Linked DNA regions of Homo sapiens. The protein of the gene in region 1 purifies or fractionates together with the protein of each later gene. This does not show direct contact. Each region holds a gene or a part of one and is shown on either strand. Other genes may lie near its edges.

Evidence for each region.
Region 2: the proteins of DNAJC5B (region 1) and SLC30A7 purify together in Homo sapiens (affinity purification with mass spectrometry; one large-scale study listed by BioGRID and IntAct). This does not show direct contact.
Region 3: the proteins of DNAJC5B (region 1) and ST13 purify together in Homo sapiens (affinity purification with mass spectrometry, with the first as the bait; one large-scale study listed by BioGRID). This does not show direct contact.

The regions. Positions count from the first base shown.
Region 1 is NC_000008.11:66,094,553-66,098,213, forward strand, and holds part of DNAJC5B (dnaJ homolog subfamily C member 5B), read left to right. Parts: intron 1-3,661.
Region 2 is NC_000001.11:100,979,095-100,982,339, forward strand, and holds the end of SLC30A7 (zinc transporter 7), read left to right. Parts: 3' UTR 1-2,663; downstream 2,664-3,245. UniProt on the Homo sapiens protein: Zinc ion transporter mediating zinc entry from the cytosol into the lumen of organelles along the secretory pathway.
Region 3 is NC_000022.11:40,842,985-40,846,645, reverse strand, and holds part of ST13 (hsc70-interacting protein), read left to right. Parts: intron 1-1,736; coding exon 1,737-1,807; intron 1,808-3,661. UniProt on the Homo sapiens protein: One HIP oligomer binds the ATPase domains of at least two HSC70 molecules dependent on activation of the HSC70 ATPase by HSP40. Stabilizes the ADP state of HSC70 that has a high affinity for substrate protein.

The DNA.
Region 1 (3,661 bases):
TTAACTGTTTGTCTCATCTGTGAGTACTGACAGTTTTGATTCTTCCCCTCCATCTCTTATCATTTTTTATTTTTTTTAAACCGCACCAAGTATGTGAACCCAGTTTTTGTTTTGCCTTTCTGTGTTTGCCAAGACTACTAGTAAAATGTTGAAGAGAAGGTACTTTCAGGGTTGCATCATAATTAGTAGGTTTGCCGTAGGTTTTTGATCAGGTTAAGAAAATTGTCTTCTATTCCTATTTTGTTAGACCTTCATATTTGATCACGGATGTAAAATTTTTTCAAATATTTTTTCTTCATCAGAGATGGTCATGATTTTTCTCCTTTGATCTGTTAATGTGATGAATTATGTGAATTGGTTTTCCAATATTAAAACAACTTTGCACTCCTTAGATAATTAAATTCAGCATAGTCTTCATGTATTGACTATTGTATTATTTGATGAAATGAGCTGGTCAATATTTTGTTTTAGATGTTTGTGACAATATTAATGAGAGTGGTCTATAATTTCCCTTTCTCAAACTTTCCTTACTGTATTTTGTATCAAGATTATGCCTCATGAAATAAATTACGAAGTATTCCTTTGTTTTTTACTTCTCTTGGAGAGTTTGTGTAATACTGGGATTCTTTCTACAGGATTCTGAAGAACTTTCTGGGCTAGCATGTAACTGTGCAAATTTTAAACTATTGATTTAATTTACTTAATGTTTATAGACCAGTTAGGTTTCCCTTCTTTTTTATTTACAAAAAGAAAAAATGGTTTCTTCAAGATTTCCTCTTATCCTTCATACATCTATAGTATCTGCATGATTATTCTGTTTTTTATTCTTTACATTGGTCATTTCTGCTTTCTCTCTCTCTCTCTTTTTTTTAACCATTCTCACCAGATGTCTTACAATATTATCAGTCTTCTCAAATAAACAACTTTTGGTTTTGTTGATTGTTTCTACTTAATTTCTTTCTTTCTTTCTTATTTCTCAGTTTATTTTGTTCATTTTCTAACTTCTTAATTTTTGTACTTCTTAATTTTCAGCCCTTCCTCTGTTCTTACATTAAAAATTTAAGACTATAAATTTTGAATTTTCTTATAAGTTATACTTTAGCTTGACACACACACACACACACACACACACACACACACACATACAATGTTCTTATATTGTTCTCATCATCTGAGTTCTAAATATTTTCTGATTTCTATTATGATTTTTTCTTTAAGCTAGGCCTGTGTATATCTTAATTTTCAATCTTGGGATTTCGAGGTTACTTTTTGTTGTTTGTATCTAACTTGACTGCTCTGTGATCAGAAAATGTCAACACTATGATACCAGTGCTTTGAAATGTCTTAGGACTTGCTGTACAGCCTGGAACTTAGCCAGTTTTTATAAATGTTCCACATTGCTTCAAAACAACACATTCTGCATTTGTTATGTTCATTGTTCCATATATGTCTATTGAATAAAGCTAATTTATTGTATATATTAGTTTGCTAAGGCAGCCATAACAAAGTACTACAAACTGGGGGTTTAAACAACAGAAATTTATTCTCTCACAGTTCTGGAGGTCAGAAGTCAGAGATCAAGGTAGCAGGGTTGGTTTCTTCTGACACCCCTCTTCTTGTTTTGTAGCTGTTCATCTCCCTATGATTTCACATGGTGTTTCCTCTGTGTCCAAATCTCTTCTTGTAAGGACACCAGTCCTGTTGGATTAGGGCCCACTCTAGTGACTTCCTTCTAACTTAATTACCTCTTTAAAGACCCTATCTCCAAATATGATCACATTGTAAGGTACTAGGAATTAGGACTTCAACATACGAATTTTGGGGAGACACAATTCTGTCCATAACATAGTCCTTTTCAAATTCTACATAAGATTTCCTTGCTTGATTTCATGAGTTAGGTGCTGAAAGCAGTCAAATTTTCCACAGTGATGATGAATTTTTCTATTTCTCTATAAAGTTCTTTCGATTTTTGATTTATGATTTTGATTTTGAGGTTATGTTATTAGTATATATAAGTTTAGAATATTTACAGCTACTTGGTGAATTAAACATTTTATTATTATGGAGTCACTTCTAGCCCCAGAAATGCTTTTGTCTTATATCTTATTTTGTCCATTAAAATATACTTACATTAGCTTTCTTCCCACTAGTGTTTGTGTGGTAAATATGTTTTCATCATTTTAGTCTCTATTTTTATCCTTATTTTTAAATGTAGCTTGGGTTTTTAAAATTCAGTCTGACAATATTTTTCTTTTAAATAGAGTACTATATCCATTGGTATTTATTATCTTCAATATAATGTACTTTGATCTTTTTCTACTAACCTACTTTTCGTGAGAGGCAATAGAGAAATAGTCTTGAAGAGAACAGACCTCTGAGAAACACTGCCTTGGTTTGAATATCAGCTCTATTGCTCACTACCCGTGTAACCTTGGCCTAGTTACACAGTCTGTGCCCATTTTCTTATTTGTAAAATGGTTATAATAACAACCCTACCTCATAGCATTATTATAACTATTGAGTGAGTTAATATACATAAAGTGCTAAGAACACTGCTGGACATGTAATAAGATATATACATATACCTACTTTCTGGTAATTTTTTTATCATTATATTTATCACTTTAAGTTGACATGTTTTTCCTGTTTCTTTTTTTTTTTTTCTTTTAAATTGTCAGAGTGTCTTTTCTTATTTGATTTCCTTCTGTCCTCTGATTTGGAAATTATATTCTCTTTTCTGTTCTTTTGGAATTACCCTGAAAATTTATCAAATGTACTTAATTTGTCAAAGTTTAAAGTCAATTCTTATCTTTACCCTCCTCTTGAACAATACAAGAATTTTGTAACACGTTAACCCTGATCAACCTATTTCTGACTTATACATTATTTTTATATTTTAGATTTTTCTCAATTTTAAGCCTCGTAAATTTTTATTATTGCTTTGTATATTCAATAATTATTTGGTTTTACTGACATATTTTCTGGGTTTTTTTTTCAATTATTTTCTTTTTACAGCTCAATTCTTTCATCTGATAACTGTTTCTGCCTGAATTATATCTCTAAATTGGGTCTGCAGTTAGAAAAATTTGTTTTTACTGACTGAAAATATCTTTATCATGCTCTTTTAAAAAAGAAATGTAACTTATTAAGAGGGTTTGTCAAAAAATATAGGTTGATGTCTTCTTTCAGTATATTGGAGACATAGTTTCAATATGTTTTAGCTTCACAGTTTTTTTAGCTCCATAGTTTTAGCTTCCATATTTGCTATTGAGAAGTAAGATTGCTTTTAATATCCTTGTCTTTTCTTTTTTTTTGAGACGGAGTTTCGCTCTTGTCACCCAGGCTGGAGTGCAGTGGCACAATCTTGGCTCACTGCAACCTCCACCTCCTGGGTTCAAGCGATTCTCCTGCCCCAGCCTCCCAAATAGCTGGGCTTACAGGCACCTGCCACCAGGCCTGGCTAATCTTTTTCTGTACTTTTAGTAGAGACGGGGTTTCACCACATTGGCCAGGCTGGTTTTGAACTCCTGACCTCAGGTGATCTGCCTGCCTCGGCCTCCCAAAGTGCTGGGATTACAGGCGTGAGCCACTGCACCCAGCCCAAAATCTTTATCTTTTGTTCTGCAATGTGACTAAGATGTTTTAAATATGATTTTTTTGT
Region 2 (3,245 bases), on another chromosome or scaffold:
ATTAAATGTTGCATAAAGCAAATCTTTTAAGTAAGGTAAAATGTTGAAGTCTTAACCAGAATTCCTACAACTAATTACTAAAACTGCTATTTCTAACTCTTCATGAAAGCATTACCTTTGGAAAGTTAAACTTTTTTTTTCCTTTCATCACCGTCTTTGAAACAAATTATTTTCCAATTCATAAGAACTTTGGTAAAAAAAAAAATAAAAGGAAATTATATGTTTTTCTTTGGACATTCATTGGAAGGCTTGTTGAAGACATGATCCCCCAGAAGCCTTAGTGACCCAGATCTCAACCAGAGACTCAAGATAGCCTCAAATACAGTGAAAGATTATGTATCCAAAAAAAAAAAAAAAAAAAAAAGAAAAGGAGCAGGGAAGGACAGTTCTAGTTAAAGCCAAATGGATGTGAGTCTGACAAGGGTGTCTTTGATTTATATTTCCTAACTGCAAATTACACAGAAAGTGAGAATGGGGAATAACTTTTATTAAGTATTTATGTGCCAGGCGGTTAGTGTGGCCTTCATGTTATTACATTTAATCCTCAAATTTCTACAAAGGAATAATTTTGCATGATTTTATGATTGACGGAGCATTTTCAAATCTCCTCTAATTCTCATAACATCTCTGTGAGGAAGGAATTTTTATCCTTATTTTACAGATGAGGAAGCTGTTTGGAGATAATTTAAGTGACTTGCCTGGGGAATCTAGCCAGTAGTAGAGTACTGATTAATCAGGTGCTGACATCTGCTCTGCTTTGTGTATGTAATTCAGCAGTGCTTCAAAGATCCAAGAAGCTGTAGCAGATCTCAATACACTCTCCTATAAAATTAGTGAATAATCACCATGACAAAATTGGTATGGCGGAACAGTCATTATACATTATTTAGACTCATTCCTTCTTCCAGTGCCCTTATGATTATTTCCTACCTTTACCATTGATCTTAAACTGTGCAGGCTAAAAAGAGGAACCAGAACTCCCTTAAGCACTTTTAAGACTATTTAAAAAATAAAGTTTTGTTGGCATTGAAGAGTAAGCTGCTTAAGGGACTGAATGAAAAGATAGTACCCTTTGTGGCTGTATGAAGAGAGAAACTGAATTTCTATCCAAGAGACCTTAATTTAGTTTATTAGGGAATTATCTTCCCCAAAAGTACAAGTAATTTTGCACTGCAGGAGAAGGATAAGTAGATTTGATTTACATCACATTTTATACACACCTTTCAAAAGGAAGAAATCTGTTTCATAAATAGTAGTAATCTATGCTTAAACTTAACATTTAATGTTGACTTCTTACAACAGCCTTGAAAATTATTTGTAATTTTGATCATGATGTTGGAAAGCTTGTAATAAAGAATATCTTTCTCTTCTGCATCCTTTTATCCTCAAACTTAGCATGGATTCACATGCTGAGTAAATGTTTGGTTAACTAGTGAACATTTTAGATAGTTGTGTCAAAAATAAGGGTTAGGGATAGGTAAAACCAGTAATTTACTGTTTTTTACAGAAGACATCTCAGCATTTCTTTGGCATTTTTGCACAAATAAATGACTATATATTCACCTTGGCCATTTTTTTTTTTAAGTAGCCCTATGAGCTGCTCATTCTTTTTCATATACAGTGGAAGTATACAGATGTTATCCATTTTACAAATTGTTGGATCGGAATTTGACAGAATTGGGACTGTGGAACCTGGGTCACTTGAATTTTCTATATTTTGTATGGCCAAATCAGGAACCAGACAGTCTCCATAGTCTCCTTTGTTTTTATGGAAAATTGCCATATTCACATATTTCATTTATCCTAATGTATTGTCATCCAAAATGAAAGAGGTCTTTCTTGAAGGTGCTTTAAAGACATCACTACATGTATTCAATTACTGATTTAAATATTCCCAGAATTATTTTTTACCTTTCTCTTTTTCCTCTCAAACACAAAATTTTAGTAGTACCTCCCTCTATTTCTTCACTGATTTTTCATCTGTTTTCATTGTTATTTCCACTATAGAACTTCTACTTTATACTAGCGGGGAAAATTTTTTTATTTAGAATTTTAATATTTGAATTTTGTTTATGTATCACATACTGTGCTACAGTTAGCCTCAATGAAGATTCTATTTTGAACTAGACATCCTGTCAATAGTTTGTCAAGTAACTTCATTGCTTCCTTTGATAGCAATTCAGTGAAATTTTTTCCCAAGTGATATTTTCCCCCAACTTTTGTGAGTTTGATAAATAGGATGAGTCTTTTATATTGGAAATACTGTGAATGGAAAATTGCCAAATCCCTTCTTAGTATATTTTAAGCACCCTACAACACTTTACCTCCCTGCCTTTAGTGGTATTTAAACATATGGCCAAGTTAGTATTTGGGTTTGATTCCTTTGGTGAAGATTAAGGCATCAAAACATTTCTTAAAATGTTTGAGTACAAGGCTAAGTTATAATGTCAACTTTCAAAGACTATGTTGTGATTCGGTTTGAATATGCTGAAGTGAGCAATTATGATTTGCCCAAGTGCAATACAACAAATCTATAATGTATATTTCACATTTTCTACTTGAACACATTCATGTATATATTTTGTTAAACTTCATATGTATTTAAAAAGAATCATGAACTGTATCAAAATTCTTTCAATAAAATTTCTATTTAAAAATCTCTACCTGAATTGTGTCTTATCAGTTTGACGAACTGAAACAAACACTGTGAATCTTACAGGTATTGGAATAGATACTAGAGGACTTAAGGAATGAAAGGCAAAGAATGATTCTCAGAGCCAAGAAACAGCAGAACTTACTAGGAGAGAAGAGATGCTAGGAGGTTGGAAGTATCTTTACATTGTGAACAGCCTCATTGTGGCTCTTAGTCAGCATCTGACCTCATAAACATGTCTCGAAGTATTTACTTCCAGATATTTCCATCACTCCCAAGTTGTTCTCTCATCTCAGTTTCTATGGATGACTTTGTCTTATATGACGTGAAGACCAAAACATCTGATGTGAGCCTCCATTATCCTTCCAAATTTTTCCCTCTGATTAGATGCAATTCTTTTTTAAAATAACTTCTTCCACAGTATCCCATGCACCACTCATGTCACCTTCCTTCTCAAAGGTATTCTTACCAAAGCAGCTTCTTTACTATCATCAATCTCTGCCATACTTCAAGGCTTTATCCTCAGCATGTCTGCTGTCAGATTCCTTGTATGTGGTCTACATTTGCTGCTTCTACCTCCTTTCTAACCATT
Region 3 (3,661 bases), on another chromosome or scaffold:
ATTGAAGATCTTTTACTTTTTATAAAATGCCTCTTTAGTCTTACTTTCTACCAGTTTCTAAAACTACAATAAATTTTTTAACCAACTCTCCACCTAAAAGTGTTTTCTTTTTTGTATACAAATCAAACTTTGATAGACAAGCTTAGTTGCTGTTAAAAAATGGATTAAAATTTTTTTACCGTGTTAAAGGGCATAAACTTTGAGCTATAATCTGAATAAATTCCAGAGATCCAGTATACAGCATGACTATAATACTGTATACTTGAAATTTGTTAAGAGACTGGATCTTCAGTGTTCTCACCAAAAACAAATAAATATGTGAGATGGATAGTTATTAATATGATGGGTGAGAATCATTTCATTATGTGAGGTGCAGTAAAGTGAAACACAATAAAATGAGGTATGCCTGAGGTCAGGCACGGTGACTCACACCTTTAATCCCAGCACTTTGGGAGGCTGAGGCGGGTGGACCACCTGAGGTCGGGAGTTGGAGACCAGCCTGACTAACATGGAGAAACCCCATCTCTACTAAAAATACAAAATTAGCCAGGTGTGGTGACACATGCCTGTAATCCCAGCTACCTGGGAGACTGACGCAGGACAATTGCTTGAACCTGGGAGGCAGAGGTTACGGTGAGCCAAGATTGCGCCACTGCACTCCAACCTCGGCAACAAAAGCGAAACTCCGTCTCAAAAAACGATATGCCTGTATGTTAAAACATCGCATTGTACACCATATACATATATGTATATATATAGTTTGTCAGTCATGCGTCAAGTTTTGTTGTTGCTGGACAGTAATTCTGATTTTAGGTGGGTGATTTTAAATTTTTTTTTTTTGACTAAGGAAACTTCTTATCAAATTAACTATTTGCAAATGTGTTCTTTTTAAATGATACGTGCGTGTGTGTGTGTATATATATATAAAACTCGTTTTCCACTTGCAACAAATTACAGTTGTCATTTAACTGACAACTGTTAAATGACAATTTGAAAAGCAAGATACTGCTTTTCATTCTTTACTGTTTTGGTTGTAAGTACTAGCTTTGGTCACTACTGTACATATGGAAACTAAATTTATTTTTAAATCTAGCCTTGGTACTTGATTCTGCATCAGTAGTAAGCCTTTATTTTAAAATTAAAACTTGTCCATGCTACTTTTAAAAATGAAAATAATTAGGGACCAGGTGCAGTGGCTCATGCTTGGAATCCTAGTGCTTTGGGAGGCCGAGGTGGGAGGATTTCTTGGACAACATAGTAAGATCCTGTGCCCCCCCCAAAATTATTTTAATTTTAAAAAAGGAAAGTAATGAATGTAATTATATTAAAATATTTTGATTTACGTTGAAGTATCACTGTAGCTTACCTGCATATTTTTGAAAAACATAGTACATCAGTGTGTAGAAAAAAATTATTTGAACTAAATCAGTTTGTTGACAATGGTGTATTTATATACAATGACTAAATCAGTGGTGTATTTATGTGTAATACTAGAAACTGCACATGTCAACAACCCCACTACAACCTGATAATAAATATCTTACATGATGTGACAGTTAACGTAAAGTGTAGTCTTACCAAAGTAACGAAATGTTTAATGGGAACATATTTTAAAATGCATCAATACTTAAAATAATTAATTGTAGTAGTCATAGTATGTCAGTTTTTAATAATCTTGGGAGTGGCTACTATATTGTACGGTGCAGGTCTTATTGTCATTTTCTCGACTTTGGCAGAAATTGATAAAGAAGGTGTGATTGAACCAGACACTGATGCTCCTCAAGAAATGGGAGATGAAAATGCGGAGGTAAGTTCGGTGACTTGATTTCCTGCTTGTTCTAAGAAATGTGAAAGGTCCTGCTGTTGCAATGATTTTATGACACGATTCTTCCAGGAAAAGCGCATAGTAAATCTTTCTCTGACTTCAGGCGTTTTAGGCAAGCATTGTATTTTACTACTTAAAATACTAATGAAAATAAATACTGTTACTTTCTGTTTTATCTGTTTTTTAAGTTTGCATCTGGTGTGACTGCTTGCACTGTAACGCAGAATTCACTTAAAATACATACCTATTAGTGGAGTTGCTCTTGATGGAATATCTAATGCCAAATTGTATTACAGAATGGTTTGTCATAACAGGCCCTCAAGGGAGTGAAAATTGGTTCTTGGGAGGAGGGCTTAAAAAAAATTCTATATATTACAATGGTTAGTGGTCCTCCAAAGACTCATAGAATATTAATATGTAGTGTATCTGTGGTATTAAAATTGGGGATATGGAAATGAGGAAAAGATGTCTAAAAAGGCTCCTTAGTGTCTGATAAAAATTTGAGAAACACTCTAATATAGTAATAGCAGTTTTAAAAGATTGGTTTTTATCCTCAAAACTTGATATTATCAGATTTCATCTTTGCCAAGTATTGTGGGAAATGGTATCTTTTTGTGGCTTTTAATTTGCATTTTCCTGGCCAGACAGGGTGGCTCACGCCTGTAATCCCAGCACTTTGGGAGGCCGAGGTGGGTGGATCATCTAAGGTCAGGAGTTTGAGACCAGCCTGGCCAACATGGTGAAACCCCGTCTCTACTAATAATACAAAAATAAGCCAGGCATGATGGTGCACGCCTGTAATCCCAGCTACTTGGGAGGCTGAGGCAGGAGAATCACTTGAACCCAGGAGGCAGAGGTTGCAGTGAGGTGAGATCGCACCCCTGCACTCCAGCCTGAGCGACAGAGCAAAACTCTATTTAAAAAAAAAAAAAAAAATGCATTTTCCTGATTCCTAATGAGGCTGAGCATATTTAAATGTTTATTGGCTGTTCACTGGCATTTGCGAACTCCTGTTTAAACTTTTTCCACTTTTTGCTGGATCTTTTTCTTACTGCTTTGTATTTCATTTCAATATTCTGGATGCTAATAATTTGTTGCTAGTGCTGCATATATTTTCTGCTAGTTTGTGACTCATCTTCACTCATCTTTCTTCATGTTGTTTCAAAAATAGTATCTTTTAATGCAGATATTTTCTGCTTTATTACTTTGAGGTTATAATTGCTGTAGTGCATTGCTTTTTCTCTTCTGAACATTTTATACACTCACCTTTCACCTTTAATCTACCGGTCCCACCAAAACTAAAATACACTGTTTCTGAATATTGTGGGTCTGTTTCAGGAGTTTATTGTTCTGCTTGTCTATTTTTTTTCTGTTCACTAATGCCACATCGTCTGATACTAAGTCTTGTTATTTTGTAGAACAAGGACCCCCAAAACTTTTTAGTCTTTTGGCTGTTCTTGGCTTTTTGTTTTTCCAAGTAAATTTTAGAAATAGGTTGATCAAGTCTCCCCGCTTCCATTGGTTTTTTTCCCCTTTGTTAGAATTGTGTTAAATCTAAATCAAGTTCGGGAAAAGATATATCTCCTCACCATTGAGATAAACTATCCATAAATAATGTTATCTGCCCAATTTTTAGGTGTTTTTAAAATATTTTAATAACTTACTAACGTGTTCCCCATAAGTCTTGTGCTTTGTTTTTTTGAGACAGTGTCTCACTCTTCCATCCAGGCTGGAGTGTAGTGGTACAATCATAGCTCACTGCGCCCTTGACGCCCTGGGCTCAAGTGATCCTCCCACCTCAGCCTCCTGACCAGCTGGGACTATAGTCATGCACCA